2 separate regions of the Homo sapiens genome follow, and region 2 is linked to region 1. The links come from fine-mapping of genetic effects on gene expression. A gene starts in region 1. The other region holds a variant in brackets. All regions are shown on one strand. Distances are from middle to middle. Region 1 holds the start of TCEA1 (transcription elongation factor A1). Region 2 overlaps LYPLA1-TCEA1 (LYPLA1-TCEA1 readthrough).

What was found. PIP is the estimated chance that this variant, and not a neighbour inherited with it, causes the effect. A credible set is the group of variants that fine-mapping cannot tell apart.
Region 2: its variant is the best candidate, but not a certain one, in a credible set for the expression of TCEA1 in blood mononuclear cells (TOPMed, PIP 0.76).

What each region holds. Positions count from the first base shown.
Region 1 is chr8:54,020,044-54,025,422 of GRCh38, reverse strand. TCEA1 (transcription elongation factor A1) reads left to right here and starts at 2,975. Exons shown (of 10, transcript NM_006756.4): 1 at 2,975-3,360. The coding sequence starts at 3,298. All of the region lies in intron 12 of LYPLA1-TCEA1 (LYPLA1-TCEA1 readthrough), which reads left to right. LOC133039971 (Uncharacterized LOC133039971) reads right to left here and starts at 3,390. Exons shown (of 3, transcript NR_189620.1): 1 at 3,041-3,390. RefSeq lists silencers at 1,922-2,229, 3,357-3,526 and enhancers at 1,651-2,442, 3,037-3,186, 2,443-3,236.
Region 2 is chr8:53,965,230-53,970,608 of GRCh38, reverse strand. It overlaps LYPLA1-TCEA1 (LYPLA1-TCEA1 readthrough), which reads left to right. Exons shown (of 21, transcript NM_001425842.1): 20 at 146-217; 21 at 2,497-4,053. The coding sequence ends at 2,505. TCEA1 (transcription elongation factor A1) reads left to right here. Exons shown (of 10, transcript NM_006756.4): 9 at 146-217; 10 at 2,497-4,053. The coding sequence ends at 2,505. Among named protein-coding and RNA genes, the nearest start is that of TCEA1, 55 kb to the left of the region's middle. The variant T/G (reference allele first, on the strand shown) is at 2,701.

The sequences.
Region 1 (5,379 bases):
CACATATTCTAGGATTCTATTTATTAAATATATAAAATGTTCAGAATATTCAAGAGTATAGAGGCAGCCAATTAGTGGTTGCCAAGGGTTGAGGGGAGAAAGGAATCAGGAGTGACTGCTTAATTGATACTGGGTTTCTTTTTGAGGTGATGAACATTTTTGGAAAACTTTTGGGAACTATCGAGTGGTGATGGTGGCACTATATTGTTATCATTAGAAATGCCACTGAATTGTACACTTTTTTATTTTATATTTACTTATTTATTTATGTTTGAGACGGAACCTTGCTCTGTCACCCAGGCTGGAGTGCAGTGGCGCCATCTCAGCTCACTGCAACCTCTACCTCCTGGGTTTAAGCGATTCTCCTGCCTCAGCCTCCCGAGTAGCTGGGATCACAGGCGGCCACCACCAGGACCAGCTAATTTTTGTATTTTTAGTAGAGACGGGGTTTCACTATGTTGGCCAGGCTGTTCTCGAACTCCTGACTTCAGGTGATCCGCCCACCTTGGCCTCCCAAAGTGTTGGGATTACAGGTGTGAGCCACTGCGCCCAGCCAGAGATCTTTATGTTTAAACATAGGTATCTACAGCTATACATTTCCATCTGAGTGTTGCCTTTGCTGTATCCCATGCACACTGGGTATGCACACACCAGGCCTTTACACTTTAAAATAGCTAAAACAGGCCAGGTGAGGTGGCTCACACCTGCAATCCCAGCACTTTGGGAGGCCGAGGTGGGCAGATCACCTGAAGTCAGGAGTTTGAGAACACCCTGCCTAACATAGTAAAATCCCATCTCTACTAAAAATACAAAAATTACCAGGGCGTGGTGGTGGGCACCTGTAATCCTAGCTACTTGGGAGGCTGAGGCAGGAGAATTGCCTGAACCTGGGAGGCAAAGGTTGCAGTGAGCCGAGATCACGCCACTGCACTCCAGCCTGGGTGATAGGCCGAGACTCCGTCTAAAAAAAAATAAAAAATAAAATAAAATGAATTAAAATCTAAAAAAATAGTTAAAAATGGTCTTAGACAAGGTAGCATGAAAAAAGAAGAAAAGTAGTTAAATGGATAAATTTTGTGTTATGTGTATTTTAAAGAAAAACATCAACTGATTCTTTGGGAAAAAAGAAAAATGACAGAATTATTACAATAAATGTACAAATCCACATTATAAAGGGAAATTTTTACATACTCATTAATTGAGGCATGAAGCAGACAGCAAACAGGGATGTAAATATTGCAACATTTTCTGTAGAAAACAATTTTTTTCTGTGTGTTCTTTTTTAGAACACATAGATATGCATAAAAATTGACGAGATAGGCCGGGCGCAGTGGCTCACGCCTGTAATCCCAGCACTTTGGAAGGCCGAGGTGGGCGGATCACCTGAGGCCAGGAGTTCGAGATCGGCCTGGCCAACATGGTGAAACTTTGTCTCTACTAAAAACACAAAAAATTAGCCGGGTGTGCTGGTGGGCGCCTGTAGTCCCAGCTACTCAGGAGACTGAGGCAGGAAAATCGCTTGAACCTGGGAGGTGGAGGTTGCAGTGAGCCAGCCGAGATGGCACCACTGCACTCCAGCCTGGTCAATAAGAGCAAAACTCCGTGTCAAAAAAAAAAAAAAATTGACAAAATAAATCTCAACAAATACTACAATTTAAGCTGGAAATCAATAATAAAAAGATAATTTAAAAATGAAACAAAATAGGGAAACGATCCCAATACTTCTCCCCCAAATGAGTGAGTCATAACCAGGAAAAACCTGTCATCTCAGTATAGAAAGAACATTATTAGGCGGTGTATTTTGATGAATGATAGTTACGTGGTGTGGGAGTTATACCTGCAAATAGCATGAGTTGGTCGTGAAGGGTTTAAGTGGGGAAAGACTTTTTGGAGGAGCCTGCATTCTCCACTATGAACCCTGTCACAACTTAAGTCACCTTCCTCTCTGATCCTCAGAAGCTGGTGGGATGCCTTGTGTAATTTCTGACCAGAAGGTTTCCGTCAACTGTTCTTCAACTATTCAAAATGCCATGCCCAAGACTGGTTCTTAGTACTCCAGGAGCTCACGAACGATTTCACCTTTATTTATTTTTTATTTTTTTTGAGACGGAGTTTCGCTCTTGTCGCCCAGGCTAGAATGCAATGGCAGTCTCGGCTCACCGCAACTTCCGCCTCCCGGGTTCAAACGATTCTCCTGCCTCAGCCTCCCGAGTGGCTGGGATCACAGGCCATGACGCCCGGCTAATTTTGTATTTTTAGTAGTGACGATGTTTCTCCATGTTGGTCAGGCTGGTCTCGAACTCCTCACCTCAGTTGATCCGCCCGCCTCGGCCTCCCAAAGTGCTGGGATTACAGGCATGAGCCACCGCGCCCGGCCGATTTTTTTTAAAAAAAGGAACGCTTAGCCGGGTGCAGTGGCTCAGGTCTGTAATCGCAGCACTTTGGGAGGCCGAGGCGGGCGGATCACTAGGTCAAGAGATCAAAACCATCCTGGCCAACATGGTGAAACCCTGTCTCTACTAAAAATACAAAAAATTAGCAGGGCGTGGTGGCGGGCGCCTGTAGTCCCAGCTACTCGGGAAACTAAAGCAGGAGAATCGCTTGAACCCGGGGGGGGGAGCTTGCAGTGAGTGGAGATCGCGCCACTGTACTCCAGCCAGGCGACAGAACGAGGCTCCGTCTCAAAAAAAAAGGAACTCTTAAAACGAGTAACTCCGTAACCTAACTTAGAGGACACGGGTTCCATTTTTCCCCGTAGCAGTCTCCTATGGAGAAAGTGCTTGGCTTCCCACAGACTTTAAAACCTGCCAAAGTTCCATGCTCGGAATCTGCCCCCGTTTCGAGATACTTGGGCCTCCGCGAGTTCTAAAACTCCGGGATGTCCCGATGCAATAGGGGGCCGAAAACCCGCCCCGTGAGGGGGCGGGACCGGAGGTGAACGCGCAGCAAAACCGGGCGCCTTCCACGACCCTCTAGCCGGAAGCCACGCCTGCCCACTAGCCCGACGCCCGCCTGGCGGGAACATGGGCTCGCCCCTCACCAGCGATCTGCAGTCAGTTGGTAGCGCCTGCACGTCGCGCGCGGTGTTCGATTGTCGCTGCCTGGGGAGGAGGAGCCGGAGCCGCCGCCGCCGCCGCCGCCGCCGCGGGCTTCGTTCGTAAGGAAGGGGGCCTAGGCCCGGGCCTGCGGTGGTGGGGGTTGCTGCGCGCCGGGGGTCGCTCCTGCTGTGTCTTCCGCTCCAGCTTCGCCCACTTCCCCTTGCCAGCGGGGTGGGCGCGGAGAAGACCTGCCGGAGCCATGGAGGACGAAGTGGTCCGCTTTGCCAAGAAGATGGACAAGATGGTGCAGAAGAAGAACGCGGTGAGCGCGGCGAGCGGCGCGGGCCGGGAGGGAGGCCGGGCCGCGGTCCGGCCCGAGGGGGCCGCCCCCTCCCTCCTTCTCCCTCCCCTCCCCCTGCAGCCTCCCGTCTGGGAGCCGGGCCCGCCGCGCCCGCGTCCCCGGGGAGGGTGTCCGGGCCCGGGGCGTCGGGTCCCGCGGCAACCTGCGTTAGGACCCGCTCGCTCTTGTATTTCCAGTCCCTGCTCGCTGGTGCCGTGTAATAAACCTAATCGATTTAGGGATTAGGGCACGCTCTCCGTTGACTTTAAACTTTCGTGCTAGTAAAACCTTGGCAATTTAGCTTAGGAATTGAAGCGTAGAAAGTCCTCAGAACTTGAAAGAATGGAGTCTTCCGTGATCCGTGGCCAACATCTAGAAAGAGCATCAAATAGAGGCTTGTGATCGGTATTAGACATCGGGCTGGTAAAATGTAAAACTTCTGTGTCTTATTTTTGAAGAGGGCTGAACGTCCGCCTGGTTATCTCAACTGTGCTACATGTTTGCTTAGCGATTAAAAAGGTAAAGTGTGCCAGTTTCTTGGCGAGTTGCTAAACGTTTTATAAAAAGCGGGTTTTGTCCTGTCGTAATGTACAGAAGAGTTAGGACTACAGCACGCACACTCACCGGAATGCTGGTAGAGGGATTTGGACAAATTATATTGTTGGGTATTTTCTAAGTGGTTTACAGTTAATACTGGTGGCATTTTTTTTGTTATTGATGAATATTCATGTAAGCATATGCTTTTGTGGTTTGTAAGAAATCCTCATACGACCAGTTTCTACAGCTTGCCCATTTGTGTGGCACTTTCAGTCCCTTGCTTCAGACTCATCTGTTCTTAGCTAAACATATTTTTTCGAGACGGAGTTTAACTCTTGTTGCACAAGCTGGAGTGCAATGGCTTGATCTCGGCTCACTGCAACCTCCGCCTCTCGGGTTCAAGTGATTCTCCTGCCTCAGCCTCCCGAGTAGCTGGGATTACAGACGTGCGCCACCACGCCTGGCTATTTTTTTGTATTTTTAGTAGAAACGGGGTTTCACCATCTTAACCAGGCTGGTCTCGAACTCCTGACCTCAGGTGATCCGCCCACCTCAGCCTCCCAAAGTGCTGGGATTACAGGCGTGAGGCCACTGCGCCTGGCCTCTCAGGTAAACTTATATAATTGTCCTCACCTAAATTTGTTTAACCACGTTCGGCACATTTTCATCATCAGTGTACCTGAAATAATTTTTCTTCCATCTATGAAGTAAATTCCATGTCAAACTAATGTGAAGAGAAAAGGGATGCTCTGATTTGTACAGCACTTTGGAGTTAAAAAGCATCTGCTCAAAATTCTTTTGTGACTCACACAGAGCTGTGAGTACATAAAGGGTATCCATTTTACAGATTAAGACACTGAGAGAGATTAAGTACTACTACTTAAATTAAGTACTGTGTAGTTTGGAATAAGCCAGGACCCAGGTTTTCTTCTGGACAGCATGCTTTCCACATGACAGCTAGATCAGGAATTAGTGTTAACACTAAATACGTAAGACTTCAAACATCCTCTGTTCCCCTTTTTCCTTTAACAGGTGCATTGCCTCGTATTTCATTTCATACCCTGTTAATCTGTATTTGCAAATTTTGGCCTTTTAAAGTATTTCCTGTTTATTTTCTGTTCTAGATATTACCAGTGCCATTTTTCCTCCCCATTGATATGGCCCTTCATTTCCCACTTCAAATTCTGGTTATTTGATAGGTTATCTGGTTATTGGAACATTTTCGTTATTTTGTTTAAACTGGAAGATTTTTCTCTGGTCTGGAGATCCCCAGACTTGCACAGTAGAAGCTCCCAGGGAAAAAAAGCCATTTGTTGGGTAATGTTCTCTCCAACTTAGGCTGTAATATGTATCCTTTAATCATCTAATGCATTAGATGTTTGCTTGATTTTGTTTCTTTCCTTGTAATAATGTTTCTAAGTAATTTTTTAGTGGGCAGGTGTGGAGAAGATAAATTCATATTTA
Region 2 (5,379 bases), 55 kb after region 1:
GCTTATTTGAACTTGTTTCAGACTTCTATTCATTTTATTGTGGTACCATTATATTTATTAAATATATATCTTTATGTATAACATTATTTGGGTTGGGTTTTTTAATAGTACTGCAAAAAGTACATTTAATTTAATTTTGCTGCAGGTACAAACCCGTAGTGCTGATGAACCAATGACAACATTTGTTGTCTGTAATGAATGTGGAAATCGATGGAAGGTATGGACTCTCTTGGATTCATATTATATACTCACTTAAAATAGAAAGATTTCTTCTGGTCTTTTCATAGGTCTGCCTAGATATCTAAATATATACAGATATGCTCACACTATACAGTACTCTTGTACTCCCTGACTACTTGTAATGGAATATACCATCTTGTTACCCTACTAGAAATAAAGAGTATTAACTTGACTTTACCACCTTTATTTGTTTTGGTGCAGGAAATGGGGAGTGAATCTTAACTGTTCAATTATTATATCACTGTCCTATTTATACTATATTCATTAAGTTGTTTTGACTCTTGTACTTCCAGAAAATCTATACATGTGTATTACTTGTTTTAATAGATTTTGATTTTGGAAAATTTTTTTTCCCTTGTTGAAATCAGACCCAATGATTTTAGTGTTTATTTTAGAAATTACAGATGAGCACTGCTGTCATTTGGTAGGCTTTTCACTAAGCCTTCATATTGCCTGTGTGCTCTTGAAATTAGTCCCACACAGGCAAGTTTATATTATTTAAATGATTCATTCTTGAGGGATTTTGTGAAACAAAAGCATAAAATTTAAATTTGGGAGCAGAAATACATATCAGTACTAAAAACATTTTAATCATTATTATAGATGAGGATGTTAAGGGTGTGAGTTTGGGAGGCTTACGTGGTAGGAGTTTAGTCTTTGGAATCATACAAACTGATTTTGAACTCCTTTGCCACTTCCCATTACTGAACTATATTGTTCTTATGTATTAAATGTAAATAGTACCTACATTTCGGATTGTGATGAAGAGTAGAGATAATATATTTAGTGTGCCTGATAATTGTTGGTGTTCTAAAAATGCTGGCTATTTTTATTAGTTTTTCTGAAGTTTGTACAAGATTCTTTTTTTTTTCATTTATACTTACATAGACTTTTCAGTTTAATGCTCATTTTGAATTATTCACTTAGCTTAAAGCACTTTCTGAAAATCAGAAATGAACTAGAAGCCATTTGGGCCAGAGTCCCAAACCATGTCGAAGATATCCATTTGGCTTCTTCAACTCCACTTTAAGGGGTTGGGGCCAGTACCTATTTTGTTTTATTTATTCATTAATTTTTTTGAGATAGATCCTCACTGTGTTGCCCAGGCTGGAGTGCAGTGGCGCTATCTCAGCTCACTGCAACCTTCGCCTCCCAGGTTCAAGCGATTCTCCTGCCTCAGCCTCCCAAGTAGCTGGGATTACAGGAATGTGCCACCATGCCCAGCTAATTTTTGTATTTTTAGTAGAGATGGCGTTTCACCATGTTGGCCAGGCTGCTCTTGAACTCCTGACCTCAGGTTATCTGCCTGCCTTGGCCTCCGAAAGTGCTGGGATTACAGGCGTGAGCCACCGTGGCCGGCCCAGTACCCTTATTACGTACAAAGATTTAGTTCTGAGCTGGAAAGATTACTGCTACTGAAAGTGTCTTCATGGTTTGAAACAGTATTTCCTACCCATCTCAGGTTGCAGAAGTTGTCATTGGTCTAGGAGAGGGACATTCACCTTCTTTTTCAATCGTGTTGAGAAAATTTGGCCTGTTCTCTTGGATTTGTTTTGCATGATGGATCTTTTTTGTTGTTGTTGTTGTTTGAGATGGAGTCTTGTTCTGTGGCCCCGGGTTCAAGAGATTCCCCTGTCTCAGCCTTCCGAGTACCTGGGACCACCATGCCTGGCTAATTTTTTGTATTTTAGTAGAGACGGGGTTTCACCACGTTGGCCAGGATGGTCTTGATCTCCTGACCTCATGATCTGCCCATCTCGGCCTCCCAAAGTGCTGAGATTACAGGTGTGAGCCACCGTGCCCAGCTGATGGATCATTTTTATTATGGTGATGAGGTGTACAGTGCAGTTTGCTTTGAATACATGCACTTTGTGACACAAGTTTTGACATAGTACTTAATTGAATTTAAGAAAGTTCAATTTTAGGATAGAAAGCTGATGCCTAGAGTGGCATATTTTAGAAGTTCAATTTTGGAATTGTTATTTTTTTTTTTTTAACCTTAAAAACATTATAAAGAGGTATTTAATAAAAATGCTGAAATTGTTTTATACAAGTTCTTTAGTTGTATGTTCCTAGTAGTTCTAAGTTGGGAAAGTCAGGCACTTAAGATAGGTGATTATTATGTGTGAAAAATACAGCATCTTTTTCAAAAATGCATCTTTTTTAAAAGCAATATCAGGTGTATGCTGTATTAAATGGGGAATGTACCTTATTGGTATTTAAAGGTCTTACAAAATATTTTTTCTTTTTTGACAGTTCTGTTGAGTTGGAAGAATTGGCAAAATATCTGGACCATTAAGAAAACGGATTTTGTAACTAGCTTTAAACTAGGCCAAGCAACTAGTTTTCCTGCAAATCAAATTTTTAAAGCAACTTGGGTTAGACTTTGTTTTTGACCTAACATCCCTTCCTTAAATGCCTTCTGTAGTTTCAGATCAGTAGGGAGACCATATAATAATT[T/G]TATGGTACCTGTTTCAAAACATATTTTTTCTGTTTTTATAAGTAAGTTGATATTAATTAAACTCTTGGCAATATTTCTTCTTTCTTAAAGGAAAATATACCTTAACTTTTTTTCTTTTACACTGTGAAACATACACAGTAGAAATTCTGTTACTCTCTGTTATTAATACATAAATGAAAATACATTTTTTTCCATATTGGCATGTAGCTACAAATATTAAAGGAGGAGAAAAGGTAATATAATTTTAGGTTTACCAAATATGGTGTGTATTCAAATAATACTTGACCAGCTTATCTAAAATGTACATAATTTTGAGGTAGCTTATGAATTTGATTTTAATTATTATGTTCACAAGCTTGGAATATTAGATATTATTTTGCATCTGTAACTAACCGTGATCATCATTTCTTGTAATTTCTTGTACATGTATATTACTTGTTCTTAATAGATTTTTGGAAACAAGACTTTATTGAGATCAGTTTGGTTTTCCTGTTAATTTACCTGTTTGACTTTATAATGTGTTTTAGTTTTGCAGAAGAACACTGTTGTAGTTTAGAAGGCTTTTCATAAATCCCCTCATAGGCAAAGATGAAAACTTCCCACTATTTTTTTCCCCTCTTAGGAAGACATACTGGAAAGAAAATGTTTAGCATCTTAGTGTAGTATAGCTATTGTAAACAGTTCATGACTAGATTTTGATTCGGAAATCTATACTGACCAAGGATTAATCTTAAGGATTGTATAATTCATTAAAGCTGTGGTCTTTCCATGTGGAGACTGATAGAAAATAATTTTGTCCCAAGTCTTATTTGCTGACTTTTTCTGTCATGAGTGAGATTGTTGAACAAACTGAATATATGGGCTATAGCAAGTAGCTTTACAGTACAGATCTTACAATTAAGTTTTGCTTTTGTTAAAGTGTGTACCATTTTTTCTGTTTGGAGTAAGACAAAAATTGTTTTGACATAGGTTCCCTAGGGTACACTTGCTCTAGCATACTTTAAAGGCCACTGTTGCAAAGTCTACATTTTATGCTGAATCTGCATTCTGTCAGGCACCCGTAGAAAGACCTCAGTACATGCTTTGCACTCTCCTTTGCTCCCTTTTTCCAATTTCTTATTGCATATCATTTTGTTGTAATACAGAAAGCAGCATTTTTAAATGTCCGTGTTAAGAATTGGCCCACTGGTACCAACTCACCTCTATTTTGTCAGTTCATAGTTGAAGATTTTGTTTTATTTCAAAAACAAAGTACATTTTTGAAATAATGTTTCAGAATAAAATAATCTCACTTTTAAGTGATCCATTTTAAAATTTGTAATTCAATAAAGTTTTTTTTGTTGTTAAACATATATCACATTTTGTCATTTTATTTAGACAATGAAGCTTGCTTTACCTTTTGTTTAACCACACACCTGCTGTCCCCTCAACTACTAAGGTATTTCTAAAGTACAGTTTTAATTAAGTGAAGCCTGGTCTTCAGTAAAAACTAGTATTCAGCAGCATTACAGAGCATGTTTTCTTTCTTATCTTTTCCTGGACCTCTGGCGATGGATGGAATGGCAGGTTCTGAGTAAATACGTGAGTGCATCCCATGTGTACACTTAATTTAATGTGAGAGACCAAATAGTGAGTCTTGCTATTGGAAAATACTAGACTTTATTTATTTATTTTTTTATTTTTTTGAGATGGAGTCTTGTTCTGTCACCCAGGCTGGAGTGCAATGGTGCAATCTCGGCTCACTGCAACCTATGCCTCCCAGGTTCAAGCGATTTTCCTGCCTCAGCCTCCCAAGTAGCTAGGATTACAGGCGCCCGCCACCATGCCCAGCTAATTTTTGTATTTTTTAGTAGAGATGGCATTTCACCATGTTGGTCAGGCTGGTCTCGAACTCCTGACCTCAGCTGATCCACCCACCTCGGCCTCCCAAAGTGCTGGGATTATAGGCATGAGCCACCGTGCCCGGCCCAATACTAGACATTTGTAAAGTAATCAGAAGTAAATATTAAGGGTAGTATTTTATGATATTTACTTTGAGGGCAAAGTAACTTTGTTAAATGAACATGCAAAGGAATTAGACAAATATACTAGCAGATAATGAAGAACCATCCTGGGGAAAGCAGAAAATGATAATCTTGGTTTTCTAGCTTACCTGGATGATGACGAGCATTGGTTTATAAATTTTGCTAAGCTGTGGCAAAAATTCAGAAATATTTATATTCACCCAATCACTTAAACCTATATGTAATCTTACAAATGGCAAATATTTTAAGTATTAAGAAGACAGCAAAAGAAATAACAGGCTGTGCTTTGAATTATTATAGCTACATAGTCGTTGTCCTTGTGGGTCAAATTGTAATTTGTGGATTTGAATTGACTTTATTTCTTTTTTCTTTATTTCTTTTTTTTTCTTTTTTTGGAGACAGGGTCTCACTCATTCACCCTGACTGGAGTGCAGTGGCACAATCTGCTCACTGCAACCTCCACCTCCTGGGCTCAAGTGATCTTCCCACCTCAGCTTCCCGAGTAGCTGGGATTATAGGTGCACGCCAGCACACCCAGCTATTTTTGTGCTTTTATTAGAGATGGGCCATGTTGCCCAGGCTGGTCTTGAACTCCTGGGCTAATGCAGTTTGCCTGCGTCAGCCTCCCAAAGTGCTGGGATTACAGACTTGAGC